Homo sapiens: one gene and its partners. The protein of the gene in region 1 interacts with the protein of each later gene in a pairwise test. Each region holds a gene or a part of one and is shown in the gene's direction. Other genes may lie near its edges. The genes, in order: PIAS4, LCE1D, NMT2, SHOX2, BOD1, CAMKK1 and CRLF3.

Region 1 (4,256 bases):
CACCACCACGCCTGGGTAATTTTTTGTGGAGACAGTTTCACCATGTTGCGCAGGCTCGTCTCAAATTCCTGGGCTCAAGAGCTCCGCCAGCCTTGACCTCCCAAACTGGGTGTTTTCTTGCCATTGTGAGCCAGCTGCTAGATTCCCGCATGCACGTTTTAGCTATGTTTCTTCGCAGGGAGAGGCACCTGGCTGCCCTCTCTGGTTCAGGGTTTTGCTGTGGATTCTGTTGCATTTTCCAGGGAGGCCAGCCCCTCTCCTGACCTCACAGCCACTCCTCTCACCCAGCCCGTACAAAAGAGTCCTGGGCCTCAGTTTCCCAGCTCTGGGGGAGGGAGCCTTGTGGTGTGGCGGTCTCCACCTTGTCGGGTGGGCTGGGGTCACGCCCTCCTCACTCAGCTCTCCTTTCCTTTCCTCTGGTTTGCTCCACACCCACAGGGAACTGCAGCCCGGAGTTAAAGCCGTGCAGGTCGTCCTGAGGTATGCCCAGGTGTGCCCGCGACCCCAGGGCTGGACCCCCAGCCACCCGCCCCTCCCCGCCCCCCAGTCCTGGCCCAGGCCCTTCTCAGTCTCCCCTGCTAACAGCAGAGCCCAGCTCTCCTCACCTGCTGTCTATCCCTGTCTGGGGATACATCACCATCCGACCCCCACTCAGGCCACACCCGGGGGCCCTGATACCCCCCGTGTCACATTCTCCGGTGCCCCCATCACTGCCGCCTGGCTACCACTCGTGTACCCCCGCAGCAGCCTAGTCCCTCCTGTGCGCCCCCTCCCCGCCCCATGGTCCCTGTTGTCGTTGCAGAATCTGTTACTCAGACACCAGCTGCCCTCAGGAGGACCAGTACCCGCCCAACATCGCTGTGAAGGTCAACCACAGCTACTGCTCCGTCCCGGTGAGCATGCCCCGCCCCCGCGTCGGCTGCACGGGTTTGGGGGGCGTGGAGGGAGGGTGGGGGCCGTCGGATTTCCCAGCCGCTCTTGGCTCGAGGCTGAGCGGCCCATCTGCTTGCAGGGCTACTACCCCTCCAATAAGCCCGGGGTGGAGCCCAAGAGGCCGTGCCGCCCCATCAACCTCACCCACCTCATGTACCTGTCCTCGGCCACCAACCGCATCACTGTCACCTGGGGGAACTACGGCAAGGTGAGTGCGTGCCCGGGTGCCCACCCTGCCCCCCAACCCCGGCCCCGTCCTGCCAGCCCTGACCCCTTCCTTCTGTCCCCAGAGCTACTCGGTGGCCCTGTACCTGGTGCGGCAGCTGACCTCATCGGAGCTGCTGCAGAGGCTGAAGACCATTGGGGTAAAGCACCCGGAGCTGTGCAAGGCACTGGGTGAGCAGCTCAGGCCACCTCGGCCGAGGGGTGCCAAGTCCACCCTGGAAACCCGCCCTGTGCTGGGTGAAGCGGGGGGCCCTGCACCCGGAGGAGATCGATCAGGGGCCGCCTGTCACTCTGGGGGTCCATGGCCCCCCGGCTGTGGCTGGGGAGGTCTCTGGAGGATACGGATGGCAGAGGGGGCACTTGGCAGTGGGAGCTGCTGTGCGGAGGCCTGTGGGGTCACACCTCGTGTTGCTGGCCCCAGGTGCTCCAGCCCACAGGGGTCTAAGCAGCAGAAGAGCTGGAGCCTCATTCCGGGACAGCACAGAGGCCGGGAGGGGTGAGAGGAGCACAGAGGGAGCTGTGGTCTAAGCAGCCCCTTCTCGTTGCCTCAGCGGGGCCGAGGGTGCTGCGGGACCTGGCGGGTCACGGACGGCCAGGGTCGTGGAGGCAGTTGCTGTGGGAGGAAGACGGGCGGCGGCGGTCTGACCTCACGTTGGTGAGGCCCCGTTTAATCTTTTTTCTTTTTCTTTTTCTTTTTTTTTTAGAGAGTCAGGGTCTCTGGGAGGTAGAGGTTGCAGTGAGCTGAGACTGCATCGCTGCACTCCAGCCTGGGCTGCAGAGCGAGACTCCACCTCAAAAAAAAAAGTGTCTCGGTGTATCGCCCAGGCTACAGTGCAGTGGTGGGATCGTGGCTCACTGTAGCCTCTAACTCGGGCTCAAGCCATCCTCCTGCCTCAGCCTCCTGAGTAGCTTGGGACCACATGTGTTCACCACCACACCCAACTAATTTTTTTTTTTTTTTTTTTTTTTTTTTTTGAGACAGAGTCTCACTCTGTTGCCCAGGCTGGAGTGCAATGGCACGATCTCGGCTCACTGAAACCTCTACCTCCTGGGTTCAAGCGATTCTTCTGCCTCAGCCTCCTGAGTAGCTGGGACTACAGGCATGTGCCACCATGCCCGGCTAATTTTTTGTATTTTCAGTAGAGACGGGGTTTCACCTTGTTAGCCAGGATGGTCTTAAGCTCCTGACCTCGTGATCCGCTTGCCTCGGCCTCCCAAAGTGCTGGGATTACAGGCGTGAGCCACCACGCCCGGCCCCAACTAATTTTTTAATGTTTCGTAGAGATGGAATCTTGCTGTGTTGCCCAGGCTGGTCGTAAACTCCTGAGCTCAAGCAGTGCACCTGCCTCAATCTCCCAAAGTGCTGGGATTACAGTCTTGGCCACTTTCGCACCTGGTCTCTTTTGTCCTTGTAACAATGAAAACAATTTTTTTTAAGTGACACGCAGAGCAATTTTAAAAGAAAGCCTGCCGGCAAGGCGCAGTGGCTCACACCTGTAATCCCAGCACTTTGGGAGGCCGAGGCGGGCAGATCATGGGGTCAGGAGAGCAACACCATCCTGGCTAATATGGTGAAACCCCATCTCTACTAAAAATACAAAAAATTAGCCAGGCGTGGTGGCAGGCACCTGTAGTCCCAGCTACTCGGGAGGCTGAGGCAGGAGAATGGCGTGAACCCAGGAGGCAGAGCTTGCAGTGAGCGGAGATCGTGCCACTGCACTCCAGCCTGGGTGAGAGTGTGAGACTCCATCTCAAAAAAAAAAAAAAGCCTGCCAAGCCTGGTAGGCAAATCAGTCCTCACCCCAAGCAGCCACGCAGCACAAAGCCAGCGTACAGCAGTTAGCCCTGCCTGGCGGCTGTGTGGCCTCAGAAAGTCGCTGGCCTTCTCTGGTGGCCACTGTCTTCAGGAGAATAGATCTGAGCCATCTTGAGGGCACCTGGACATCTCTCTGGACCCCACATGCTTGGGGCCCAGGCCTCAGTGGGCTCTGCAGGCCTGTCTTATGGAGAGGCTAGGCCTAACCTGGAGTCATTTGGAGCTGGGAGTGGGAGTCAGGCAGGTGGGTGAGGACTGGGACCACCTGCCAGGCTGACGAGAGGGCGGTTCTGGGCCAGCCGGGTTTGCTCGCACCCCCTTCCCGAATGGTGGCTGTTTTCAGGTGGAATCTGGGCACCACCCCAGCCCCTTGGCAGAATGTGGGCCAGAGGGTCTTCCAGCTGCCCCTCCTAGCTGCCCAGGCCCCTGTGCCCAGGCCAGAGAGTTCCCCATGAGCACTGCCCTCCTGGCACAGCCAGGCCCAGGCCTCTGGTCCCTGTTCCTGACCACCAAAGGGCACCTCCTTGCCTGGGTGTCCAGAAGCCTGGAGCAGTGCTGGCACTGCCAGGGGCCTGCGAGCCCCATCGTGTTGAAGCCTCCTGTGCACTCCAGCCCCCCAAGTCAGGAAAGATAGCCGGCAGCACCCCCTCTGCAGAGCAGGACGTGGAGGGTGAGGGGTCCCTCCACGGAGTCCGGCATCCTTGGCCAGCCTCCTCCAGGCTCGGGGATGGAGGGCCTGGCTATGTACCCGTGTGACCAGTGGGGACACTGAGGCACAGAGTGGCAAAGTTAGGGTTCTGTGTCCTGGGTTACCCCGCCCCACCTCCCTCTTCCCTCAAAGGGCCCTTTTTTCAACCGCCCCCGACCTTCCCTGCCTGTGGGGACATGGCCAACTTGAGGGAGGAGGCTGGGGCCGGGCAGGCCTCTTCTAGGCCCACGGGGTGGGGGCCGGGCTTAACTCCTCAGTGACCAGAGCCCGCAGTGCTGGGGGCTGTGGGGTCAGGCTTCCTCTCCGAAGGGGTCTCCTGCTGCTTCCCACAGCCGGCCCCAGGCTCAGCCTCTCTGTCACTGGATTTCTTTCTTGCTGCACCTAGGAAGTCCTCACCTTTGCCTCACTTGAACCCTTCCTGCTGCGCACGTCTCTCCATACACAAAGGAGGGAGAGTTTGCTTTAAAATCAGATGGGCACCTGCATCCCCTCCTAGCTGCCCCTTTGCCAGGCTTGAGGGTCCACCCGGGCACCGGGTAGCCAGAGCTGGGATCCAAGGATGGAAACTCAGCT
Region 2 (4,197 bases), on another chromosome or scaffold:
ATGAAGGATAAATAAAAAAGTGGGATTGAGCCACACTGTCCTGGAAGGGTAGAGGCCACGGCATGCACTGCAGGGAGAAGCATAATCAAAGTACAGAATATAATCCAGTTCAGTTTCAGAACATTTCTGAGAGTAGATGACAAAGGCTTAAACTAAAGGGAGAACACAGAGTCTTATTTCACTGAAGGAATTTGGACATTTACCCTTATACAGTGTGCAATCATGAACAAGACTTTACTAATGATTTAGTGTTAATTATGTACAGGGATGGAAGATGTTTTCTTGGATGTCATAAAAGAACAGAATCAAAGACACACTACAGTGTTTGGAGATACTACGTTATCACAGGAGTCTGGGCAGCTGTAATAATTGATGCTCTGAGACAGGTGGTACACACACATATACATCTCTCTCAATATGTATGCTCTGTATATGTGTTTATAAATATACATGTATCTCCACCACGTTTTGGTTAGGGTCACCATGTCCATTTTGACCTAGATATCATTCCCAAGTTCTGGGCATATCCAGAGTCTGTCAGGGGCTGGGAAGAAGAGGACTTGTCCCTCATATGGTTTAATCTGGCTTTTCTTGGTCTTCCTCTGAAGAAATAGTTTAATTTGTGGATAACCTTGCAGTCATGGCTGTCTTAGTGACTAGTGTGTCCTAGAATGAACAGCAGCCCATTTCATTAATATCCTAAAAATGTATAAATTCAGAACACTCCATTCATATAAATCCTGTGGACATGTAGAAAGCTAGTGATTCTAGTGGAGAGAGAGGAGAGGGGCTTCCAAAGTAGCAGCATAAACACATTCACATTAAATATTAAGGACTCTTGTTCTTAAAAGGCACCCGTCCCCTTATGGTCCAGGACGGGGTTCTGCCAGCCATTTGACCCCACATGGAAGCGTAGACTTATAATGTCTCACAACCATGTCTCTTTTCTTCCTGTTTCTCATCTGTGACCATCATCCGGTGCTCCCAGTGTGAACCCAGAAAAGTCCAAATTCTCACACCAATACAAAGAGCAGAGCTGCTGCTTCTTGTTTCTCTAATGAGCTGCTTCCTTGTTCACATCTCAGTGCTGACACATCAAGGACCCCACCAGAAGAAAAGGGCTATTTAAAAGCAAACAGATCACCAAACAGCCAGACTCACTCTCATTAGAAAAAAGCTGTGCTTCGTTTGTTAAACAAAGATCAGTATCTTCATTCTGTATTCAGCAAGTTATGAATGTTTCACTTATTCAGAGCCTACAATGTTTCAGTCTCTCTGTCAGGCACATTTTCTCTTTTTTGTGTTACTTTATTGACTTTCACAACCAACTAATTCTTCTGTAACTAATTCTTTTTCATCTTCCAGCTTTATGGTTTAAAAAATGGTACAGGCTAAATAGTTTCAACAGTCCCATCTCGCAGGGCCTGGTCCTGGGCCGGGTTATACTTCCAGGGTTTTACTTGTGTAGATGTCTACACTGCACCCACAGCCACACAGTTTGGTGGTGCACAGGGACAGAAATAAACATGCATGGAAACCTCAGGGATTAGTACTTCAACTTCAACCCAGGCTGCACGGAGCATCAGGTACTTCGGAAGAGACAGAAATGAGATAGGTCCTAAGTTCTAAGACTGAGAACTGAGAGGCTCTCAGGGCAAGCAGCCTTCAAGTGAATGAGGTAGGTGATGGTAGGAGTCATCCTGGAACCCCGTTTCAAGTAGGCACTTTCCTACCTGGGAGTGGCTGCCTTGAGCCTGGGGAGAGAGGCAGGTGAGGAGCTGTCAGTCACCAACCATCACAAGACCCACGTGGGTGTCAGAAGGAAGGTCCTCTCATGCCCAGGCCCTGTCTCACAGCTGGGGCAGAGCCCAGGCCAGGATAAAAGGGCTCAGGGCCAGACCACCCCATCCACTCACCTCCTGAGGTGCTAAAGAACCCTGTGCTGCCTGTGACTCCGGTAAGAACAGAGCAGGGATGCTCAGAACAGAGCAGGAGGGAAGGAGGGGCAGGGCCTCCGGGGCTAGGGCCATGTTGTCAGAGGTGGAGAGTTTAGAAAAGACTGAAGGGGCGGGGGCCAAAAGGGGTCTGGCACTAACTGGGAGCAGGAAGGAAAAGAGGAAAAGAGCTGGCGGGCTGTGCCATGTGCCTTTGAACTCTAGAGGAAACAAACTGCTCTGGGATGAGGTGGGTGTTCCAGAGTGGGAACTTTGAAGCACAGAGACCTGCTCCACTCTGGCAGCCCACAGGAGGGAAGCCCACCTCTGAAGATACAACCCTGTCTCTGCCTGCAAGGGAAGAACTGGAGCTGTGGACATGGGACTAAAGACTCTTTGGGGTTTATGAACCCCACATTTTCATGGGTCTGAGATTTGTTCACAAACTTCCCAGCTTGGTTAGGACACACCAAGCCTGAGACCCACCGTGTCATCCCATCAGCCTGAGCAGGTGGTGAGTGAGGAAGTCTGAGCTCCAACCTGAGATCAGGGGGTCAGGGTTCAAGTACTAGTCTGCAGAAACTGCTAAGTTTATCTGTCTCTATTGAAGTGAGTTTACTGACCTAGTAGTCTCCAAGATCCTGCACAATGCTGACCTTCCAAAGTAAAATCGTCTTGCAAATTATGACCAGAGAGAATGACTGCTTCTTCTCCTTTAAAAATAATTTTCTCTTAAATGACTCATAAATTAGACAATTTCAGTCTTAAGATATATTTGTAATAATTTCTTCCTCCACTGACAACACATCAGAATCTTAGATGCATTTTGCAATATTGTTTAGTCTTAGTTTACAGTTGTCTGACATCCAAAGATATCTTGAAAAAGATGATGTGAGATTTTGAGGAAATTATTGGAAATAAAACTACTGAAGATGATGCTTTTAAACTTGAGAGGTGCTAAGAGTGTCACAGGGGCAGAGGTGGCCTCTGCCTGGGTCTGACTTGTTATTTGACTCTCCCTCAGCTCCTGAACACCCACCACCGAGATGTCCTGCCAGCAGAGCCAGCAGCAGTGCCAGCCCCCTCCCAAGTGCACTCCCAAGTGCACTCCCAAGTGCCCCGCCCCTAAATGTCCCCCTAAGTGCCCTCCAGTCTCTTCCTGCTGCAGTGTCAGCTCCGGAGGCTGCTGTGGCTCCAGCTCTGGGGGCGGCTGTGGCTCCAACTCTGGGGGCTGCTGCAGCTCTGGGGGTGGTGGCTGCTGCCTGAGCCACCACAGGCGCCACAGGTCCCACCGTCGCAGACCCCAGAGCTCTGACTGCTGCAGCCAGCCCTCGGGGGGCTCCAGCTGCTGCGGTGGGGGCAGCAGCCAGCACTCTGGAGGCTGCTGCTGAAGTGGACCTTGACTTCCTCTTCCTTCTGATTCTGCCTGAATAGCTGAGAGGTTCCAGCAAAAGCTTGAAGTCTTGCCTGGAGAATCCCTCTGCTCTGGTGTCAGGAAACCCAAAATCTTTCTCCTTAATGGCATTTAGAGACTTTCTTCTGCAGATCCATGGCTGCCCTGGGAACTCCAAAGCACACACCTACTTCCTCCCCAGCTCACGCTACTGTATTCTGTGCTGCCTGAACTGAAGAAATAAAATCCAGAATCTGCTCCCCAATTTGCTACCAGCCTGCTTGATTTTCCTGTTTGTGTCATCCTTGTTCTGCTCCCCTGTGTCTGCTGGTGGCTGCTGAGGCCTTGGTGGACAGAGGATGGGGAAGGGGTCAGGAGGAAAAAGCTTGCATTTCTGTGTGTTTTGTGTTTTTTCTTCTTTCTGTGTTTTCCTTTTAAACCAAGGGACTGAAATAGCATTGAGAAATATTTTTCTTTCAAATTCTGGTTCCTTTCACCTATGTAACCGCATCCCTCAGGCATGGCCAGGAGGCCGACTTCATCCTCCTTCTCACTGTCACCTCTTCACTCTTGTGTTCCTCGTTCCCCACTCCTTCCACTAACAATCTCCCCGGACTCCTCCTTCAGATTGTATGTACACGTAGTAGACATATAAATATATGTGTGTGTACATGTATATATATACACACATATTTATATATACTCACATTATATGGAATAAATCTTTAGTTTTTAAACTTAAATCACTTTTATTGATCTATAACTTTCACACAATAAAACCCCTTTTTAAAATAAACAATTCAATTAGTTTTACCAAATGTATACACTCTTTTGTAACCACAATTGCAAGGAACACTCTAAAAATGTAGT
Region 3 (4,256 bases), on another chromosome or scaffold:
AGCTGTCACCACTGATAGTTTAATGAACTCACTTTTTAATATGTGTGTGTGTTTAACATCGCTGGGATCTTACTGTACCTGGGTGCATTTGTTACCATGTATGTTTCGCTGACTCTTATTGTTGTGTGCTGGAACTTTCTGGGGTGATAGTAATCCAGTTGGGCAGTCATCAACACATGGAGCACTTGCATGTGACAAGTGTGACTGAGCTGAATGTTTTTATTTTATTTGAATTAATTTAAATTTAAATAGCTCCATGTGACTAGTGGCTATCATACTGGACAGCTCAGATCATATTCAGTCTTTGAATTTTGTTTATAAGCTTTCTTGGTACTCAAAAATTTCTGTATTTTATTTCCTGTCTTTGGTAGAATATGTCTAGTTTTCATTCTTTTTTTCTTCTGTGGATTATCTGTACACTTTTTTTTTTTTTTTTTTTTTGAGACAAGGTCTCACTCTGTCATCTGGGCTGGAGTGCAGTGGCACAATCTCAGCTCACTACAGCCTTGACCTCCTGGACTCAAGTGATCCTCCCACCTCAGCCTCTCAAGTAGCTAGGACTACAGGCACATGCCACCACACCTGGCTAATTTTTGTATTTTTGTAGAGACAGGGTCTCACTATGTTGTCTAGGCTGGTCTCGAACTCCTGAACTCAAGCAGTTCACCCACCTCCGTCTCCCAAAGTGTTGGGACTACAGGCGTGAGCCACCGTGCCCGGCGATCTGTACATTTTGAACAAGTATGTTTTCATCTATATTTCTTTATCCATATCAAAAAATTAACCACTATTTAAAATATTCTACCATCTCACAAGAAAAATCATGTAGGATATTTTGACTTCTTTTCATTTCCTAGGTTTAATTGAAATAACCTGGAATTGTAATTCTTTTATTTTTGCCCTTGTGTCACTAGAGACTTTTTTCTTAACTATTACATGTTTCACATTCCTGTTAACAAAAACATTTTAGACTTTCCTGACAGCTTTATTGTTTTTATGGGTTTCCATCGTTCTTTATAAAACACATCCTCCCGGCCAGGCGTGGTGGCTCGCACCTGTAATCCCAGCACTTTGGGAGGCCGGGGTGGGCGGATCACCTGAGGTCAGGAGTTCGAGACCAGCCTGGACAACATGGTGAAACCCCATCTCTACTAAAAATACAAAAAAACATTAGCCAGGTGTGGTGGCGGGCGTATGTAATCTCAGCTACTCGGGAGGCTGAGGCAGGCAGGAGAATCACTTGAACCCAGGAGGTGGAGGTTGCAGTGAGTCGAGATTGCACCATTGCACTCCAGCCTGGGCGACAGAGCAAGACTCTGTCTCAAAAAAATAAAAGTAAAAAATAAAACACATCCTGTCTTTTTCTTCTTTAACAGCATTCTCACATGATTTTTTTTCTTAGAGTGCGTGGATGATGTATTTTGAGTTCTTGCATGTCTGAAAATGCCATTCTTTTCCCCTCCCACATAATACATAGCCTGGGTGTGCATGTGACTCTATGATAACAATCGTTTTCCTTGAAACTCCATAAACGTTTTAATATCTTCCAGTATTTACTGGTACAGATGTTGTTTTCTTTGTGTTTTTTTTTTTTTTTTTTTTTTTTTTTTTGATTTTTGAGGCAGAGTCTCGCTCTGTCACCCAGGCCAGGCTGGTCTCGAACTCCTGACCTTGACCTCAGGTGATCCACCTGACTCGGTTCCCCAAAGTGCTGGGACTACAGGTGTGAGCCACTGTGCCTGGCCAGATGCTGTTTTCTCTGCTTCTCTGTCTTTTATAGGTAATCTTATTCTTTTTGTCTGTTTTAACTTGTTTTCAGTCTAGAAGCTTCTGGCATTTTTTCCCTGTTGTTCTATTACCAAAGGGTTTCCATGTCCTTTCACATGCTGGGATCGCCTGTCCTTTATTTTTTATTTTTTGCAATGGAGTCTTACTCTGTTGCCCAGGCTGGAGTGCAGTGTCGTCATCTTTGCTCACTGCAACGTCCACCTCCCAGGTTCAAGCGATTCTCCTGCCTCAGCCTCCCAAGTAGGCAGGATTATAGACGCACACTACCATGCCTAGCTAATTTTTGTATTTTTAGTAGAGACGGGGTTTCACCACGTTGGCCGGCTGGTCTCGAACTCCTGACCTCAAGGAATCTCCCCACCTCAGCCTCCCAAAGTGCTGGGATTACAGGTGTGAGCCACTGCACCTGGCACCTTTCCTTTACTATCTAAACAAAATGGCCTGAGCTGATACATGTTCATGGGGGTTTCTTGGGGTCTTAAGTTTTCATGGTCCTCAGGCACACCCACACTGCAGCCAACTTGCCCCATCACCGGGCTCCTTGTGCCTGTGTGTCCTTAGGGTGCTCTTTTTCTTCAACATTTGACCTTGGGTGGAACACGGTTATCTTCAGTTCTGTGTCTCTCACCACCCTCCTCCCAGGAATCACTAAAATCCAGCTATTGTGCACAGCATTTGCTGAAGCGTTTGTGGCTAATGGGGAGGGAGGGAGGTCTGATTACAGAGTAGCGCAGAAAACAACTTTGAATTCAGTGTCAGACATCATTGTTCACCAAGAGGAATTTGTTACTGCTCACGCCTTTCTGTGGGTCATGGCTTCCTCTGCTTCTGAGAGTGTCTCCTGATCTTTCTTCTCCTCTTCTCTAAGTTCAAGGTCAGCCCAAATGTCCTTTCTTTCATGAAGCCTTCCGCAGCCACTATGACCAAAGGCGCTGACCCCTGCCGGAAGCCCTGTAGCTCTTAGTGAGTGTATCTTTCCCGTGACATCTTTCCCAGTTGCTCTCACCTCATCTCCCCAGCCCTCTGCTCGGGAAGACCCTCATTCTCCTGCCCCAAGCTGTGGCTCCTAGAGGTGAGTTCCTTGTCCACAATCACAAATGGGAGATGTGGGTCTTTGCGTCTGTTGCTTAATGTGTGTGTAGCATCTACCAACCAGCTAGAGTAAAAGGTTTTATTTTGCTGGGCGCAGTGGCTCACGCCTGTAATCCCAGCACTTTGGGAGGCCGAGGCGGGTGGATCACCTGAGGTCAGTAGTTCGAGAGCAGCCTGGGCTACATGGTGAAACCCCATCTCTACTGAAAATACAAAAATCAGTCTGGCACGATGGCGGGCACCTGTAATCCCAGCTAATCGGGAGGCTGAGGCAGAATTGCTTGAACCCGAGAGATGGAGATCACTTTATAAGCACATACTGCAGTGAGCCGAGATTGTGCCACTGTACTCCAGTGAGCCTGGGCGACAGTGAGACTCTGTCTCAATAAATAAATAAATAAATAAATAAATAAATATTTTAAGGAGGTTTTATTTAAATATACAATAGGTTATCTGAAAATAAAGTATGGCTGGACTTTATTAGAATTAAACATTATAGAAAGTCAAGTACCCAAGGTCCATCTGTCTTTCTAACCTCTCTCCCTTTCTGTCTCAGTCTCTGTCAACTAGACTGCCCCAAGCATCTGTTCCTTAGTTCAGATTCTCCAGAAAGGATCTCACTGGTTTCTGGCCAAGAAAGGGATTATCCAGGCATGATCCAGTCCACTGTGATGGAGAAGGGAAAGGGAGGGGTAGAAGAGAATTGTGTGGTACAACATGGCCACTGAGGGCCACACCTTTGGTGAGACCTGTGGGCAAAGGGAGTTTTCAGGGAAGGACATAGTGAACAATGCTGGCACCTTGCTGGGACTGAATTGTATCTCCCTGCCAATTCATATGTTGAAGCCTAAATCCCCAACGTGATGGTGTCTGGAGGTGGCACCTTTGGGGGGTAAATAGCTTACAAGGGTGGAGTCCCCATGAATCGGATCAGTGTATGCTTATAAAGAGATAGAGTCCAGTGCTTTGTTGCTCTGCCAAGAATAAGGCCCTCACCAAAAACCTGACCCTGCTGGCACCCTGATCTTGGTGGACTTCCAGCCTCCAGAACTGTAAGAAATAAATGTCTTTTCTTTAAGTAATCAGTCTATCGTATTCTGTAATAGCAGGCTGAACTAAGACACACCTCAAAACATGTTTGCAGAACACAGCGTGTCTGCCTGTCTACTCACAGGTAGATTGTGTGCATGGAGACAGCACTTTCAGTCTCCAATCCTTGCAATACCTGGTACCTTGCATGTGTTTGTAACTTACTAAAGATTTGCAGAATGGATTCCAATAGCTCTTAATTCCCATTGACAAATTTATTTCAAATTGTCTTTATTTTATATGCATTAAGAATATGTGAAGGCTTTTCTTTTTCTACTTCTCATTGA
Region 4 (5,037 bases), on another chromosome or scaffold:
TGCAAGTGTTTCAGGTTGTTTTGACGGAACTTCTTAAATTATCTGCTAATTTGTTTTGATGCCTTAACCAATATACGGAAGATATACATATTAATGTTCTGTAATTCCTCTTATTTTTACTAAGAGTATTAGATCCAAAATAATGATCAAGTTACCTTTAACTTCCAGAAAGTCTGCATTAATATTCAGAGTACTTGAAAATGTCCCCTAAGCCACACTTAGAGGTATATTTGTTTACACACTTAAATATAACATCATATGTAAATATTCTTTTGTGAGTATGTATTTGCATAGCCACACTTCTCACAGCAAGCCCTGTCCGGCACAATACAGACAAATGACTCAGGAATATAGATGTTCCTCTAACGTAACAAACCGTTCCGATGAAAATAGCCCAGAAATAGAATTTTAAATCGTAAGCGGGGTGGTGGGGGGGGTAGGCAGAGAGACCTTTACTCCTGGCGAGCGTCTCTTTTTTAGCTCTCCGTAATAAATGAAATTAGAGGGGGTACAAACTTAACGTCGATTTTTTTTTCAGACTCGAAGAGGGATAATCTCTTGTTTTTCAAATTAGTAAATAAACTCGGATGTTTCCCAAGATGCTAAAGAAGAAGTCCTGTAATTCACCATAGAGGGGTCCGAGTGCAGAGAGTAAGGGAGAAGGGTGGGAGTTCTGAGACCTCAGAGAGGAAACGAACGAAGTCGAGCTGTCCTTGACCGGGCGCTAAGGAAACACTTTAAAATGAGATCTGTCAGCTAACAGCTGCTGGGGAAACTTGTTAAATCGACTGGTCCCTTTTAGCGGGGTCTGTCCATAGAGGAGTCAGCTGGGCTCCAGGACACGAATAATAGAGCGAATAACACGGACCGAGGGGCGAGGAGCTTGGAGAAGACCCGGACTCAGCCTGCCTGCGAGCCGGGAAGCTCCTAAGAGAAGCTGCGCGGGTCGGAGAAGGTGCAGGCAACCCTGTCTCTGGGCAGGATGATGCTGGGCGGTGGAGCTACGGCCGGCAGGGGTGGGATTGTGAGGGAGAGGCGGGGATGCAGAATTGGGATGCGGGGTCAGGATGCGGGAATGGGATGCGGGGCCTGTAAACTGCTGGGCGGTTGATGCAGGGCAGGGACGAGGAAAAGCAATGCGAAGCTGAGCATTGCGAGGCACCCTGACTCGAAGCAAGGCTGTAGGGAAGGATGCAGTGTCGGGATACCTGACTGACTCTAAGAGCTGCGCACTTGTCAGTTTCCTCTTGGCCCCACCCCGCGGGGTCTATCCAGCTCCCCAGTGTTTAACTAAGTCGTGACACCAACGCAAAATCCACGCCTAATTAAATTAATTAGGGATTCTTGTCAATCCTGGATTAATGGCCAAGAGCACAGGCGGCAGGGGCTATCTGAAAACCTGAGCGGCCGGGGACCGGCCTTCTCTCCCCGCCCCCTCCGGTCCCCCTGTGCTGCCCTACCACTCCAGCCCCAGCCCGCCCGAACTCCAATCTCTCTCTCTCCTCTTCTCTCTCTCTCTCTCTCTCTCTCTCTCTCTCTCTCTCTCTCTCTCTCTGTTTCTCTCCTTTTCCCCTCCCCAACCCCCGGTAGAGGCGCGACTGCTACCCGGGAAGGGGGCTCACTCCGAGTTGCGAGGGGAGGTAATTTACTCAAAACAAGAGGCCGCCGTTAGGAAGTATAAATAGTGGGACTTCAAGCGCAGCGTCGCTATCAGATCTGAACTCTCCGCAGGAAGAATTGTCAAAGATCTTAACATTGAACAAGCGCGCTCCGGCAGGGAAGCATCAGTTCCCATTTCCCTCCGGCAGCCCCCGCCCCTTCTCTTCTCCTCCTCCTCCTCCCTCTCCTCTTCACCCTTCTCCCCCTCTTCCTCTTCTTCCTCCTCCTCCTCTTCTTACTTCTTTTTCTCCTTCTACTTCTCCTCCTCTTTCTTCTTTCTTCTCCTCTTTTTCTTCTTCTTTCTCCTCCTCCCTCTCCTCCCCCACCTCCTGTCCCATTGATGTGTTATTATTGGGGGGGCTGGAGCAGTAAAAAAAGAAGAAGGAAAAAAAGAGCGGGGCTCTGCTGGCAGAGGTTGAGCGCCGGGCTGACGTGCGGCGGCGATGGAAGAACTTACGGCGTTCGTCTCCAAGTCTTTTGACCAGAAAGTGAAGGAGAAGAAGGAGGCGATCACGTACCGGGAGGTGCTGGAGAGCGGGCCGCTGCGCGGGGCCAAGGAGCCGACCGGCTGCACCGAGGCGGGCCGCGACGACCGCAGCAGCCCGGCAGTCCGGGCGGCCGGCGGAGGCGGCGGCGGAGGAGGCGGAGGCGGCGGCGGAGGAGGCGGAGGAGGTGTAGGAGGAGGAGGAGCAGGCGGAGGAGCTGGAGGAGGGCGCTCTCCCGTCCGGGAGCTGGACATGGGCGCCGCCGAGAGAAGCAGGGAGCCGGGCAGCCCGCGACTGACGGAGGGTAACGACCTGACTGACCCCCGGCAGCGGTTCCCCTTCCCGCCTTCCGGACTCCTCTCGGGCGGGAGAGGACTCCGAGGCCCAGCGGGGAGGGGAGAGGGACACGGAGAGGGCCCTGGACCCCAGCTTTGTCAGCTAGAGTGATAGTGGAAGGGTGGGGGTCCGGTGGTATGCTCGGTCATGGGTGGGGTCCTAGTGTGTTGTGGGGGTGGCGTGGGGGGAAGCGTGTGGGGTTTGTGCGCGCCCTTCCCAGATGTTCCCATTCCACCGAAATGCATTTTTCACCAGCGGGAGGATGGGCCCGCAGCCCGGATGGCCCGCAGGCGGACGTGGAAGTTCGCGGGGCCGGGCTGCAGGAGGGGGTGCTGAACCAGACGGCGGGACTAAAGCTAGCCTCTAGCGCAGAGTTTGCCGGGAGGGAGAAGGGGCAGAGGTGGAAAGCTTAACCCTCCGGTCGCCTAGGTGTTTGGGGCCGCCAAGACCCCTCGAACTCCGCAGAGCCCCTGAATCTTTGGATCTTAGGGGCCAAAACTTCCCATTCTCTTTCAAGGTAGAAGGAAGCCAACGAAAGCTGAGGTCCAGGCTACGCTGCTTCTCCCGGGCGAGGCGTTTCGGTTTCTTGGTGTGTTGGGGGCGGGGGGGGGGGGCGGCGGGGGAGGTGGGGATCTATATTTACACAATTCCTTTAGTGTTTTCAATCACCCAGTACTCGGTTCTCTTAGAGCAAAAATCCTTTGGTGCTAGCTCAGTGTTAGGAAACGTCTTTATCTCAATGGCAGAGCGTTCTATACCAATTCAAAGGAGTTCAACAATAAAATTGATTTGGCACTTGGTGCCTGCAGTAACTGGTGTACTGCCATATTTTTCCAATTAAGAAAATATGTGGCATGCGTGGAATCACATATTTAAGCAAGCAATTAAGTTGTTTATGACACGGTCTGTTCCTGTTTAGATCAGTAATTGGAAATTTGGGGACAAAAATAGAGATTTTATTAAGTCTATGGATCAACTTGAAATTTGGACATCTCCTCGAAGCCCCAAAACTTTGAGTGGCATCCACTGTGTAGATGACATGTAATAGACAAAGCCTTCCCACCTCATTGGCAGAATTTGAAGGGTGTGTTTTCATATTTAAATTTCAATACAATATCAGTAAAAATACTTTGCTATTAAATTGGCCCATAATGTTTACTATAATGTTCCTTCCTAAAGAAAGGACAAATGTCCACAAAACTAACTCTGAGAACTAGAAAATACGGCAATATTTAAGATCACCGTAGCTAGAATGCCCGGCAGGGCCGAGATCTAGCGACTCTTCTTCCTCCAAACCAGCACCAGGTCTTCCTAAATTTGTAAAGTGGTGGAGTTACCGTCAAGGTGCCCAGTGCAGCCTCCCGGCCATGAGTCCACAACTACAGGCCCGAACTACAGGTTCGCCAGCGCGCCTGACGGCGAGGTTCAGGTCTGAACCCCCGGCGGGCGCAGTTCCTGGGATTGTTGATTTCCAAGCTCAGGGCAAGTATTAATTTCTCTGCAGACCGGCTCTTCCGGAAATGATTTTTAACACCCATGCTGGCCTGGATCCTGCGCTGGGAAGAACTGCAAACAGCCTCGACTATCTAAACTCAGCTTTGACTTCTTAAAACCCGGAGTCTCTGATTCGGGCGCAGAGGATAAAGGTTCCAGGGGGATATATATATGGTGGCTGTATATGCTCACACTAGAAGAGCTCCTGTTTTTAAAGGGAGGAGAAGGACAGGAAAGTGGCAACGGATGTGTGCAAACCCAGAGCAGAAAAATTCATATTTTATTAAACATCCGAGCTGCTGGTTGCATGAAAAGGCTTTGAGCAACCAATAGAAACCGAGGATCGCGAATATTCCGCTTGAACCTGTTGATCTCTGTGGGTTAAGCGTTTAGGGTCGAGTCTGCGTTTCCACGAGGGAGGGCGAAGAGAGAACAGAAAGAGCGGTTGCTTTCGCCCGCCACCGGAGGCTGGTTTTCCGCCTCCTGCCTTCTGGCCCGGCTTGGGCGGCGAGCCCTTTGGGCAGCCAACATGGCGTGGGCGCCTGTGCTCGTGCGACCCCGGTCGGGCAGGCGGGACGGAGATTACCTGGCTGTCCAGGGGACCTTATGCAGGGTTTGGCCCGAGCCCAGGGGCAGCGAGGGGCGTCTGCGGATGCGGCTCCCTGTGCGGCACAACACCGGGGTCTGTTGCTCTCGCTGATACCTTTCGGCCCAATTGTTCCTAAATTAGACCAGCAAGTTTGCGGTAGGCAGAGAGCCAGCGGTGGTGAGAGCTGGCCTGAGAACGAGCCAGCCTTCTGGGAATGGCCGGTGTGAGAGGCCAGTGGGTGGCCTTGCCGCGCCCTTATGTCCAGACTTTGCTCTGTGAGAGGCCTGGCGCTGCGCCTTTGATTTCTGTGAGTGCTGCGGAGCAAGTGAGTGCGAAAGTGAGTGGAAACCATTTGGTGTTTGCTGGGGAAGGCCGGTGACTGGGGGGTGAATAGTGAGGCGGTGAGTCGAGGTACGTTTGTGAAGGAGGTGGTGGATGACTGCCCACCTTGCCCCAGGCGGCCGCTCAGACTTG
Region 5 (4,256 bases), on another chromosome or scaffold:
CATTTCCTTGCCTTTCTCTTTTCCAGGTTTAGTGGAGTCTTTGAGTTTGCTCTCTCAACCTTTTGGAAGAGGCCAGTCATGGAATTGAGGCCTGCTGGTTCCTTTGTCAACTTCATTTCCCTGACTGTTAGCAAACTTTGCCGCAGTAATGCTGCATAGCAAACTGAATCTCAGCAGCTTATAACCAGCACTTGTTCACATGTTCATGGGGCGGCAGGTCTACCAAAGTTCAGCTGAGCTAGGAAGGCTTCAGCTGGTGGCTTGGCTGCAGGCTGCCCAGGTGTGGGTCCAGGCTGTGGGTTGATGTCAGGCCTGCTGCATGTAGAGTTACTTAAAAGCAAATGGAATAATATAAGTAAAGCGCCTGGCATTGTGCCCACCCACCATCAGGTGGGCACTTGTGTTAACCATTAATTCCTGACTGCCACATTGCATGGTGATCTTCATGCACAGTGGAAGTGTATTTAGACTTAATAACGTTTCTGTGAAAAGCAGTGTTCTGAGAGACTAAGTTCAAAACTTTGGTGCATATAACTTCTGACCTTGCCTCCTCTTTTTAACATTTTAGCCAGCTTACCAAAACCTGAGGCAGAAAGTGGATAATTTTGTGTCAACACATCTGGACAAGCAGGAATGGAATCCTACGATGAACAAAAACCAGTTGCGAAATGGTCTGAGGCAGAGTGTGGTTCAGTAAGTAAGCAGAATTTAAAGCTTTTGAAAAGGCAGTCATCACAAGTGTGATGCACAAGAAGGTTGAGGTCTCTGTTTAGTCAAGGTTGATGGGACTTTATATCAAGTATCACTTAGGAGTTGCAGCAGTCTGCTCTTTTGTTATAATTAAGGTTAAAGGAAGCAAAGTACTCAGTTGAAATTCCAGTTTCTGCAGCCTGTGAAGGCCTCCTGTGTGCATCTCTACTGGGTGCATCAAAAGGCATTCCAAATCGTGAGACATTTTCCCTGCTCTTTGAAGTTTCAGTGTTGTCCAAACATATATGTGAGTTTTATACCAAGATATCAGGGTTTGGATCTTGGGCAAGAGGAGTTGGATCTTTATTCTCACAGGTGAATGTGAACTAAATAAATTCTTTGAGTCCACCAGGACTGCCACCTCTAAAGTGTAATGGTGACAGCTTTCAGGAAGGCATAGTCTTAATAAAGTATCGTACTTCACAGTAACAAACTGAACCTTAGTTAATAAAGGTGCTATTGATAGCTTATCTGAGTGACGCACAAAAGTGGAGGTGGAGGAGGGTACAGAAATGGGAGAACACATTAGTGATTGCCTGGGGTTACGGATGGGAGGAGGGGGTGAGTGTGACTTGCAAGTGGTAGCACAAGGGGGAGCTTGCAATGGTGCAGTTAAGTGTCACTGAATTGTGCTGTGCTCACGTGCAACAGCTCGTATGGTAAAGTCGCACGGAGCTACACACACAAATAAGTGCAAGTGTAACTGAAGTCTAAATAAGGTCTGGATTGGACCAGTGTCATTTTCCTGGTTTTGATATTGCACTAGTTACGCAAGGTGCTGACATTAGAGCTGGCTGGGTGAAGGGTGCGTGTGGAACTCCCTGGACTCTTCTTCACAACTTCCTGTGAATATGCAGCGATTTTAAGATTTCTAAAGTTTTTAAAAGTGTTTTACTAACAAGCTAGTACTTCCAATATGGCTGAATGCTGGGAAGAAGCCTGATAGCAGAAGATGCCCAGTGCCTTGTCATTCTGGAGTCAGTACCGAGTGCCTTTCCCTTTCTCCAGAGAACAGACTGGTGGCACCGGGCTCTTTCAGAAAGAAGGGGACAGTAGCTGCCCCTTACTGAGCAACTCTTTATTACATGTCTGGCACTGGTCTTTACATATATCACTCATCCTCATGAAAAGCCTGTTTCACAGCTAAAGTCACTTGTGTTTACCCTGTCTTGAGTAAATCAAAACACTGAACATTCTGAAATATTTGGAAAGTTGCCATGATTGTATGAAGGCTGTTAACATTGCTTTGATTTCTGTAATGAGCATGGATGTCATTCTAGAGGTATGCATGTGGCGCTTCCTCTTGCATTTCTTTAGTAGGAATTGTAATACGGAAAAGTGCACAGAAGTTCAGTGAAACAGATAATTAGAACATCCCTTGATCACCCAGATCGAGAAATGGACTCACACCCCCGAAACAGCCTAGCTCCGGATGTACTTTCCTCCTTTCGGAAGTTTTCCATATTCCTGACTTTTATACTAATCATTTCCTCTCTGCATAGTTTTTACCACCTCTGTGAAGTTGTTGTTTTTTTTTTTTTCCCTGCTTTTTGATTTGACTTAGAATGTGTTTAACCTGAAAACATGAACTTGGCTTTAATACTGGGACATTTCTCCACAATTCTTGCTAGCATTTTGAATTTGAGGCAAAATCTACTGGAGTTTCGAAACGCAGACTTTCTGCTTGCCCCCAGGTGCTCTCCCCAGGTGGACACTGCAGGCCTTCAGAGCATTGGCTCACTGGCCTGGCTGTTCTGGCCCAGATGCTGTAACCCAGTGCCACAGCCTAGAGGGTTTAACAGGAAATTAGCCTGTGCTATTGCACTGAATTATGACGAATAACTCTTGTAACTGTACAATATTTGTTTTTTCCATCTTGTACATTGGGCTCCTGACAAGATTTTATGTTTTCCTCAAAAGTTTAAGAATCTCCAGGAAAGTGAGCTGCACTCCCTTGGTAGTTTGTTTCCCCTGATCAGGGGTTTTGGTCAGTTGGGGATGCTTTAACAAGGCGCCGTAGACTAGGTGGCTTGTAAACAATGGAAATTTACTTCTCACCATTCTGGAGGCTAGAAGTCCAAGACCAAGATGCCAGCATGGTCAGGTTCAGGGGAAGGCCTTCTTGCAGGCAGCAGACTGCCAACTGCTTGTTCTTCTCATGTGGTGGAAAGAGAGCTCGCTAACTTCCTGGGGTCCCTTTTGTAAGGGCATAAATTGCATTCGCGGAGGCTCTGCCCCCATGACCCGATCGCCTCCCAAAGGCCCTACCTCCAAAGGCCATCACATTAAGGATTAGATTTCAACATAGGAAGTCTGGGGGACACAGGCATTTAGTTGATAATATCAAGCTTTTACATCTGGTAAAGGACCCTGTGAATCCGACTCAGGAAGTGGTTTGGTAAAGTTGGAAAGGTATTGGCTTGTGACTGAGGAGAGGTGGCTTTCCTTTGTTAGCATCCCATAGCCGGATGCTAACTTTGCTGTATTTAACGATGCTCATCACTAAGGGCCGATACTGTCTAATGCCTGGTCTACCTGAAAATGTGCCCTTCAGTGCTCTAGTGGTGGTGTATTTACATCTAGGCTTCCTGTCGATAAGCTGTTAGTTACCATTGAATCCAGGGAGCACTTTACACACTAATCATCTTTCCCAGTTCACAGCCTGTTTCTTATCTTCTTTGTCATGATGTACATTTACTCATGTCTTTCCTTTGCTGTACCCTGACAGACCATTTGCCCACTTGCTGCCCAGCCTATTTTTACCCGAAGGCTTAAATGGCCTCTGAAGTCTCAAGTCTACGGGAAAATAAGTAAAACCTGCCCACATGCTTGTGATGGTATTGGAATATTTCAGTCCTTTGAGAAGAACACTTCACTTTGAACCTTACGGGCTATTTTCCAGACTGTCCAAATATGATTTGTTTCCTCTCACCATCATTTCCAGTACCCTGTCCCAAGTGTTTGAATATAGACATTGATATGCCCTGATTTTTGCTCTACTTCAGAAAGGATCGGGGATGTAATTTAGCCCTCTAGGAGCTTGGAACTAATTTGTTTGTCTATTTCTTGTTTGCTTCCAAGTTGCTTATTATGTGTTACAGGTAGCAACTACAGCTGAAGGCCATGGTGAATTGCTGGTGATGTAAATACTCCCAGCCCTGACTGATCGGCCTTGTTTAAATTTTAAGGATTAGTAAACAGGTTGCTGCTGGAGCTACTTCTGCTTAGGCTATTAGGAGAATAAATGTTGAAGGAAATGGAGTCCAATTCGGGGCTTACTGGCTTTGACAGTACGAGGAAGCTTTTCAGTGCCACACGTGTCAAACTCTTTCTCACCATGCTGTCATTTGTTTGTTGTTTTGGAGCAACTCACTTAGTTTTGTTTTTGATTCTTTTGTACAAGGTTGGGTGATTGTGGGTGAGATTGTGCAGTAGGAATAACAGCTGCTGGTTGAGAATTACCCCTCAAAAGTGAAAATAGCGTGAGCTGTATATGGTAAGTGGAT
Region 6 (4,256 bases), on another chromosome or scaffold:
TCAGGGTTCAGTCCGGGGTCAGGATGTAGCCCAGGGTCATGGCTGAAGGTGAGGGCTGGGGGTCACCTCCCTGATGTTTCAGCCGCCACACAGTGAGTTTGAGAACATGAGTCTCAGGGGATGTCATGCCCCTGTTTCACCCCTCATTCCCCTCATTCTCATCCCCTTGCTTTTTTTTGAAACCGAGTCTTGCTCCGTCACCCAGGCTGGAGTGTAGTGGCGTGATCTTGGCTCACTGCAACCTCCACCTCCCAAGTTCACACGATTCTCCTGCCTCAGCCTCCCGAGTAGATGGGATTTCAGGTGCACGCCACCATGCCTGGCTAATTTTTGTATTTTTAATAGAGACAGAGTTTTGCCATGTTAGCCAGGCTAGTCTCGAACTTCTGACCTCAGGTGATCCACCTGCCTCGGCCTCCCAAAGTGCTGGGATTACAAGTGTGAGCCACCATGTGGGGCCCATCCCCTTGTTTTGACAGACGTCAATGAGGCAGGGCTGGCTGGAGTCGGGAGCCCCAGGGAAGTCTTCCTGGAAGCAGTGAGAGGGATGGGGGTAGGAGGCTGAAACATCAAGGAGGGCTCCCTGGAGGAGGCGGGTGGGTCTGAAGCATCAGCAAGGCTTCTGAGTTACTAGTGTCTAGCTCAGCTTCCAGGAGGCAGTGTCGGAGTGCTCTGCTGTCAAGGGTTGGGACTCATGACTCACAGGGCTGCATGCTGTGCTGGGGCTGAGCTGACCCTGGGCTCTGCCCCTTCCAGTGCTGCTGGGCCTCCAGGCTTCTGCCCTGTCTGTCCTGATTCCAGAATATCAGATTCTCTCTGCTTCCCTGTGAAGCCAGCAGGCAGAAGTGACTGCCTCTGTTACCGGCAGGGATACTGAGGCCTAGAGGGCTGGCATGCGGCAGAACCGATGTGAATTCATTCAGGTCATAGGGACAGACTTGAGTTTGGGTGTTGGCAATCCCGGTAGAGGGAACAGCCAGGGCAAAGGCATGGAGGTGGGACCCACAGCGCTGTGGCTACCTTACCTGGTAGCCAGCCTGACACCCAGGAGTGAAGCCTTCTCTGCCTTCTTTTCTCAGGTTCCCAACAAGGCTACGCAGAAGAACCCCCTTGACTGAAGCAATGGAGGGGGGTCCAGCTGTCTGCTGCCAGGATCCTCGGGCAGAGCTGGTAGAACGGGTGGCAGCCATCGATGTGACTCACTTGGAGGAGGCAGATGGTGGCCCAGAGCCTACTAGAAACGGTGTGGACCCCCCACCACGGGCCAGAGCTGCCTCTGTGATCCCTGGCAGTACTTCAAGACTGCTCCCAGCCCGGCCTAGCCTCTCAGCCAGGAAGCTTTCCCTACAGGAGCGGCCAGCAGGAAGCTATCTGGAGGCGCAGGCTGGGCCTTATGCCACGGGGCCTGCCAGCCACATCTCCCCCCGGGCCTGGCGGAGGCCCACCATCGAGTCCCACCACGTGGCCATCTCAGATGCAGAGGTTGGTGGGGCAGAACGAGGGGTTGTTCATGAGCCCCTCAGTAGTCTGCAATGAAGACTCTTTCCTGCCCCTGTCTGTGCCACACGGCTATCTAGCTTTGGTTTGCATACCCTCAGAGCTGGGGAGATCACTACCTAACAATATAGCTTCTTCCCAACCAGGGGAGCTCCAGCTGAGCCAAAGGCTGCCTTCCCTAAGTCCTGCTATTCCCACTCCCAGCCCAGGCCTAGGAAATAGGTCTCTCCCTGGTCCCCTATGTAGTCTTCTTAGAGATGTGAAGATAGATGCTATGTCCCCCTTCCCCCCTAACTCTTCTCCAGCTTGCACCCCTCGCCTCTAATTCTGCCTCTTAGAGTCTGCTGTGACTCAGAAGCGGCCGGCCTGCCTCCAGCCTCTGGGCTTCTGCTGGAGTTCTTGCCATTTAGGTCTGAAAGTGAACTCAGGTTCCAAGCAGTCTACAGATGTCAGGGGCTGAGCTTTCTGTGCCTGAACCCAGGCTCTCAGCCTCTGTGCCCAGGGCTCCTCATCTTGTCCTTGGAGTCTAGACCTTCTCATTCAGCTGCTTCTGGAAATAGTTGCTCATGGGTTTCTCATGGATTAGGGTCTTCCAGACTCCAGAATCCAGACAGGAATTAGCGTTTTCCCTTCACCACTGCTTCTGGGGAACAAGGCACAGCCATGGCGTCACCATCCATGTTTTCAAACATGAGCCACGTCTTCTCGTCACATACGGGGGCGATGGCACCACCAACTTCCCCATCCAAACTCAAAAGCTTGGTGAGACCTGGGGGTCCGGGAATGAGGAGCTTATGGCCAGAATTGGACCCTGAACGGGCTCTGAGGTAGGAGCAGTGCTGCCTCCGGACCCAGCTCCACCTGGTGCTCGCTCTTCCCCCACAGGACTGCGTGCAGCTGAACCAGTACAAGCTGCAGAGTGAGATTGGCAAGGTAGGAGTGGGCAGGCCGAGAGCAGTGGGGGCTTCGGGATTCTCTGTTTGGCGCTGCTCCTTCTCTCGTGTGGGAGGGAACGGGAGGCAGAGCCAGGCAAGTCCTAGCCTGGAGGTGAGGACAGTTTCGTGCCCTGTGGGAAGTACCCAGGTACCCAGGGGGAGGGTGGAAGATGGCTCCTGATTCCCGACTCTCTGAGTTCTTGACAGTGGACAAGGAGGGACTGAGGGAGGCATGGAGCCATGTGGAGCCAAGCAGGGGCAGTTACCAGGGCGCAGGAGTCCCCTCCCCATCTGCTACAATATTTGCCCGTGAGCCAGCTGGTGGTGGGTAGTGCAGATGGGGTGCAGGAGAGACCAGAGCTGCTCGGCTCCCCACCTCCTGAGCTGGTCCTGGGAGGGGTTGCCCTGTCCAGGTGGGGCTGACTGATGCCTATCTGCAGGGTGCCTACGGTGTGGTGAGGCTGGCCTACAACGAAAGTGAAGACAGACACTATGTGAGTCTGGGGATACGAGGGAGGTGTTGCCCAAGCCAGGCCCTGGAAGCCTGAGGGGTGGGGCAGGAGTTGTGCTTAGGAGATAGAGGACAGGGCTGCCTGAGAGTGAGCTCCCTGTCCCTAGGGGTATGCAAAGGAATGAGCTTCCTAACCCTGGGGATATGCAAGCAGAGACTGGATTCCTCTGAGGGGAAAGCTCCAGAAAGGCTTGCTGGGGGAATAAGGGGAAGGGCTAGGCTCAGATATGGCCACCCCCAACCCCGCTTAACACTTACCTGGGCCACACCCTCAGGGCCAGTAGCAGATGTCCAGTGTGCCTCTCCGGACCTCAGTCCACATGTACCAGCCTGTTCTAGCCCCTGGTGGCTGCACAGTAGTGACATTTCTGTCCCTCCTTCCTTAGGCAATGAAAGTCCTTTCCAAAAAGAAGTTACTGAAGCAGTATGGCTTTCCACGTATGTATCTTCTGATCCTGTCCCTGGGAGCTCCTAGCCTGGAGGCAGAGGAGGAGACCTCGATCCTGAGCTAGTTTTGGCTAGGAATGGGGTAGAGAGGGAGACAGCGTGAGCAGAGGCCTGGGGACAGAATGTGCCCTGTGGGTTGGGACAAGACCACGGGCATGCAAGACTCTTGCTTGAGACTGGTTTGGGGGCCACGGTGAGGCCCAGCCACCTGGAACAGGTGTTTGAGTTCTCTTCCTGGTCACAGGTCGCCCTCCCCCGAGAGGGTCCCAGGCTGCCCAGGGAGGACCAGCCAAGCAGCTGCTGCCCCTGGAGCGGGTGTACCAGGAGATTGCCATCCTGAAGAAGCTGGACCACGTGAATGTGGTCAAACTGATCGAGGTAGGGGGTGGTGGTGAGCAGGTGGGAACCAGCACCTGAGTCTCATGGGAGCCGCTTCTGGTGCTGGGGAGCCCCTAGCACAGACCCAGGGATCTTGCCCAGGTGGCAGATGTGGCTGAGGCCTCTGAGGACAGGGCCAGACTTGGGGTGGGGCTGCAGGAAGGCTTTGGGGGCCCAGCCTGGTCAGGGATGTTCCCAAGTTCCCATGGAGGGTGAGGGGCTGCCCCAGAGGCAAGAAGTGAGCCCCTCATTGCAGCTGGAGGGGAGGAAGGCTGGATGTCGTGTGGCGGGCCAGGTTGGGGGTCGGTGACTTCTGAGGCCCCATCAGTCTGGCACCACCTGTACACTTCCTGCTTCCTTGTCTGGGGTGGTTGCATGCATACTAAGGGTTCTGGGGCTGGCAAGGACCAGGAGGCCTGGGACCTCCAACCCCACGCCTCCTCAAGCCCCACCCCCATGTCTGCTCCCTCTGACCAGGTCCTGGATGA
Region 7 (4,256 bases), on another chromosome or scaffold:
GGCTGATTTTAAGAGATTTTGAGCCAGGCACAATGGCTCACACCTGTAATCCCAGCACTTTGGGAGCCTAGACAGGAGAGGAGGATCATTTGAGGTAAGGAGTTCGAGACCAGTCTGGGCAATGTAGTGAGATTGTCTCTAATTTTTTTAAAAAAAAATAGCTAGGCGTGCTGAGCACAGTGGCTCACACCTGTAATCCCAGCACTTTGGGAGGCCGAGGCAGGCATATCACAAGGTCAAGAGATCAAGACCATCCTGGCTAACACAGTGAAACCCCATCTCTACTTAAAATACAAAAAGTTAGCCAGGCATGGTGGCAGGCGCCTGTAGTCCCAGCTACTCGGGAGGCTGAGGCACGATAATGGCGTGAACCCAGGAGGCGGAGCTTGCAGTGAGCCTAGATCGTGCTATGGCACTCCAGCCTGGGCGACAGAGCGAGACTCCGTCTCAAAAAAAAAAAAAAAAAAATTAGCCAGGCATGGTGGCACACACAAGTTGTCCCAACTACTCAGGAGGCTGAGGTGGGAGAGCTTGAGCTATGATTGCAGCACTGCACTCCAGCCTGGGCAACAGAGCAAGACCCTGTCTCTTAAAAATAAAAACAAAAAAACAAGACAGAGTTTTTTTTTTTTTTAAGAAGTAGAATTATTGATGATTTTACTGAGCAGTGACTGTTATCTGTAGATGATTACCTACATATGTGATGGAGGGGAAAGGAAAGGATTTGTGATAACAAAAATCAGCCTACTTTTGGATTCTGAATAAATAGTGGTGCTGTTTTTGACAAAGGAATTGAAGGAGAAGGCGGGTGCTTAGTACGTAGTTAGGCATTTGGCTTGGGCATGGTGAGTTTGAGGTGCTTAAGATGGAAATACGGGTATGATTCTTAGGAGAGAGATCATACCAGGAGATGTCAGTATGGCAGTTAATGGCATATATATCAAATCTGAATCTATTGGAATAAGTACAATCATCAAGGGACACCGTGTAATGTGAGAAGAGCAGATGAAAGAGATTAGAACGCTAAGGGTCACCAACATTTAAAAGTCATTTGAGGAAAAAGGAGCTAGGGAAGGAGACTGAATTCCATCTCTTCTGCAGAATGAGTGCTGGGAGTGGTGTGGGAAAAAGGCGTGGATGATTCACATGGCTGTCACTCCACCTGGAAGTTAATCTTCTTTTGGTCCCACTTAGAATATAGTATGGGTGTTATCTTGACATTGCTGGTTACATTTTTGTCTTGTCTTCAATGAGAAGTGTTTATTTGCCACTGACCATAACAGTACTTTTGAGAAAATTCTAGCAGTACCATGAAATGTCTTTCCTTGGTGGCTTTGCATTTGGAAACAAACCCAGAAGCAGTGCACCACGGGCCAGGAGTGTACACTCATCACCCTGAGGACTGATCATTTGTTTTTATTTTAGAAGATAAATCCTGGCCGGGCGCGGTGGCTCGTGCCTGTAATCACAACACTTTGGGAGGCCGAGGGGGGCGGATCATCTGAGGTCAGGAGTTCAAGACCAGCCTGGCCAACATGGTGAAACCCCGTCTCTACTAAAAATACAAAAATTAGCTGGGCATGGTGGTGGGCACCTGTAATCCTAGCTACTCGGGAGGCTGAGGCAAGAGGTTGCAGTGAGCTGAGATTGCACCATTGCACTCCAGTCTGGGCGACAAGAGCAAGACTCCATCTCAAAAAAAAAAAAAGATAAATCCTGGCTGGGCATAGTGGCACATTCCTGTAGTCCTAGCTACTTGGGAGGCTGAGGCGGGAGGATCCCCTGAGCCCCAGAGTTTGAGGTTGCAGTGAGCTGTGATTATACATCACACTCCAGCCTGGGTGACAGAGTGAGACTCTGTCTCAAAAAGAAAAAATCCCTTTGAGGCAGTGTGAGTGTTACAGCATTTGATACTTGAATATTTTTGTATGTCCAAAATTTAATTTAATTAATTAACTTATTTATTTTTGAGATGGCGTGTTGCACTGTTGCCTGGGCTGGAGTGCAGTGGCACGATCTCAGCTTGCTGCAGCCTACGCCTCGCAGGTTCAAGCGATTTTCCTGCCTCAGCCTCCCGAGTAGCTGGGATTATAGGCGCCCGCCACCACGCCCAGCAAATTTTTTGTATTTTTAATAGAGACAGAGTTTCACCATGTTGGCCAGGCTGGTCTAGCACTCCTGACCTCGTGATTTGCCCACCTCGGCCTCCCAAAGTGCTGGGATTACAGGCGTGAGCCACTGTGCCTGGCCTATGTTTTTTAATTAAAAAAAATTATTATACATCTCAGCAGCAGAAGGAAACTTTAGGAATATTTTTAATGTCAAACTCTTTCCTATTCTCCTGAGGGATAGAAACTTACTTATGGAATTTTGAGGATTTTATTTATTTATTTACTTATTTTTGAGACAGAGTCTCACACTGTTGCCCAGGCTGGAGTGCAGTGGCACGATCTTGGCTCACTGCAACCTCCACCTCTCGGGTTCAAGCGATTCTAGTGCCTCAGCCTCCCTAGTAGCTAGAACTACAGGAGCGTGCCACTATGCCCAGCTACTTTTTGTATTTTTAGTAGAGACGGGGTTTCATCATGTTGGCCAAGCTAGTCTTGAACTCCCAACCCCAGGTGACCCACCAGCCTCAGCCTGCCAAAGTGCTGAGATTATAGGCATGAGCCACAGTACCCGGCCATGTCTCTGTTTTTCTTTTGGTGAAGGAGAAGGTCATATGGTCTCAAAAAACTTGAGTAACTACAGGGCACATTTAGATGGAAAAGAGTTCTGGCAGTGTTCTTCAGGGCTGTGGAAGGACATAGAAGTTGGTCATTTTCATATCATATGCCTCTATGTAACTTTTTTTTTTGGCGGGGGGGACGGAGTCTCGCTCTTTTGCCCAGGCTGGAGTGCAGTGGCGTGATCTCGGCTCACTGCAACCTCCATGTCCCGGATTCAAGTGATTCTCCTGCCTCAGCCTCCCTAGTAGCTGGGAATACAGGCACCTGCCACCACACCCAACTAATTTTTGTATTTTTAGTAGAGACAGGGTTTCACCATGTTGGCCAGGATGGTCTTGATCTCCTGACCTCGTGATCCACCTGCCTCCGCCTCCCAAAGTGCTGGGATTACAGGCGTGAGCTACCGCACCCAGCCTGACATTTTCTTTTTATTGTTCTGTTGAATAATTTGTAATCTGATATATGATACTCTTTTAGGAAAACATAGATGCATCATTTGGCTTTTCAAGCCTTATGCCCAGCCTGGGCAACATAGTGAGACCTCATCTCTACCAAAAAAAAAAAAAAAAAAATAGCTGGGCATGGTGGCGTGCACGTGTGGTCACAGCTACTTGGGAGGCTGAGATGGGAGGATTGCTTGAACCTGGAAGTTCAAGGCTGCAGTGAGTTATGATCCTACCACTGTGCTCCAGCATGAGTGACAGAACAAGACCCAGTCTCAAAAAAAAAAAAAAAAACACCCTATCCCCTGTTGCACCTCTCAGGGCAATATTTTGTACTGGCTCCTATTGAAGTTCATAATGATTCTGTAGGAGAGATGGAAAGAAGTCCCTGGGCTTTCTGCTTTGCCTAAAATTGGTTGATTTCCTTGTATAGAGTAGATAGATTTTTCATCTCTGGCAAAATGTTGCCACTGTATATCCCTTTTCCTCTTGGATTTGATCTTAGAGTCACGTCTAAAATAGTTTCTACTTTAACTTTTTGGGAATTTGACTGTGGCATCACTTAAGAACTTATTTGCAAGAACGCTAGAGACCCACCCAGACATGAGTTGTGTTGATTACTTTATATGTGACCATTTTCATTGTTCTAGTTCTCTTATTCTTGATTGTAGGTGAAATCGCCATGCTTGGTGGTGTGGGAGAAGAGAATGAGAAACTGTGGAGCTTTACCAAAAAGGCCTCGCACATTCAGTTGGACAGGTAAAAGAGTTTGTGCCTTTTTGACTTACTTTTAAGCATTTAAACTATGTCTGCTTTTTTCCTCCCTCTGTTCAAGATTCTCATTAAGGGAGATAGAGAATATATATTTCAAGGTTTTCAGACCATGCGTGGTGGTTTACACCTGTAATCCCAGCACGTTGGGAGGCCAAGGCGGGTGGATTGCTTGAGGCCAGGAGTTTGAGACCAGCCTGGCCAACATGTTGAAACCCTGTCTCTACTAAAAATATAAAAATTAGACGGGCATGGACCTGTAATCCAGCTACTTGGGGAGGCTGAGACAGGAGAATTGCTTGAACCCAGGAGG

The links.
Region 2: the proteins of PIAS4 (region 1) and LCE1D interact in binary tests that used the Homo sapiens proteins (3 or more experiments, as listed by UniProt).
Region 3: the proteins of PIAS4 (region 1) and NMT2 interact in binary tests that used the Homo sapiens proteins (3 or more experiments, as listed by UniProt).
Region 4: the proteins of PIAS4 (region 1) and SHOX2 interact in binary tests that used the Homo sapiens proteins (3 or more experiments, as listed by UniProt).
Region 5: the proteins of PIAS4 (region 1) and BOD1 interact in binary tests that used the Homo sapiens proteins (3 or more experiments, as listed by UniProt).
Region 6: the proteins of PIAS4 (region 1) and CAMKK1 interact in binary tests that used the Homo sapiens proteins (3 or more experiments, as listed by UniProt).
Region 7: the proteins of PIAS4 (region 1) and CRLF3 interact in binary tests that used the Homo sapiens proteins (3 or more experiments, as listed by UniProt).

What each region holds. Positions count from the first base shown.
Region 1 is NC_000019.10:4,027,708-4,031,963, forward strand, and holds part of PIAS4 (E3 SUMO-protein ligase PIAS4), read left to right. Parts: intron 1-438; coding exon 439-480; exon of another isoform or gene 481-482; coding exon of another isoform or gene 483-490; intron 491-802; coding exon 803-893; intron 894-1,012; coding exon 1,013-1,141; intron 1,142-1,223; coding exon 1,224-1,329; intron 1,330-4,256.
Region 2 is NC_000001.11:152,794,815-152,799,011, forward strand, and holds LCE1D (late cornified envelope protein 1D), read left to right. Parts: upstream 1-1,906; 5' UTR 1,907-1,957; intron 1,958-2,958; 5' UTR 2,959-2,980; coding exon 2,981-3,325; 3' UTR 3,326-3,367; downstream 3,368-4,197. UniProt on the Homo sapiens protein: Precursors of the cornified envelope of the stratum corneum.
Region 3 is NC_000010.11:15,158,437-15,162,692, reverse strand, and holds part of NMT2 (glycylpeptide N-tetradecanoyltransferase 2), read left to right. Parts: intron 1-2,656; exon of another isoform or gene 2,657-2,860; intron 2,861-4,256.
Region 4 is NC_000003.12:158,103,090-158,108,126, reverse strand, and holds the start of SHOX2 (short stature homeobox protein 2), read left to right. Parts: upstream 1-1,706; 5' UTR 1,707-2,102; coding exon 2,103-2,448; intron 2,449-2,685; exon of another isoform or gene 2,686-2,997; coding exon of another isoform or gene 2,998-3,069; intron 3,070-3,121; exon of another isoform or gene 3,122-4,899; coding exon of another isoform or gene 4,900-4,900; intron 4,901-5,037. UniProt on the Homo sapiens protein: May be a growth regulator and have a role in specifying neural systems involved in processing somatosensory information, as well as in face and body structure formation.
Region 5 is NC_000005.10:173,609,568-173,613,823, reverse strand, and holds part of BOD1 (biorientation of chromosomes in cell division protein 1), read left to right. Parts: intron 1-568; coding exon 569-693; exon of another isoform or gene 694-697; intron 698-4,153; exon of another isoform or gene 4,154-4,246; intron 4,247-4,256. UniProt on the Homo sapiens protein: Required for proper chromosome biorientation through the detection or correction of syntelic attachments in mitotic spindles.
Region 6 is NC_000017.11:3,882,554-3,886,809, reverse strand, and holds part of CAMKK1 (calcium/calmodulin-dependent protein kinase kinase 1), read left to right. Parts: intron 1-1,079; coding exon of another isoform or gene 1,080-1,122; coding exon 1,123-1,482; intron 1,483-2,382; coding exon 2,383-2,430; intron 2,431-2,872; coding exon 2,873-2,926; intron 2,927-3,329; coding exon 3,330-3,381; intron 3,382-3,634; coding exon 3,635-3,768; intron 3,769-4,245; coding exon 4,246-4,256. UniProt on the Homo sapiens protein: Calcium/calmodulin-dependent protein kinase that belongs to a proposed calcium-triggered signaling cascade involved in a number of cellular processes. Phosphorylates CAMK1, CAMK1D, CAMK1G and CAMK4. Involved in regulating cell apoptosis.
Region 7 is NC_000017.11:30,796,986-30,801,241, reverse strand, and holds part of CRLF3 (cytokine receptor-like factor 3), read left to right. Parts: intron 1-3,843; coding exon 3,844-3,931; intron 3,932-4,256. UniProt on the Homo sapiens protein: May play a role in the negative regulation of cell cycle progression.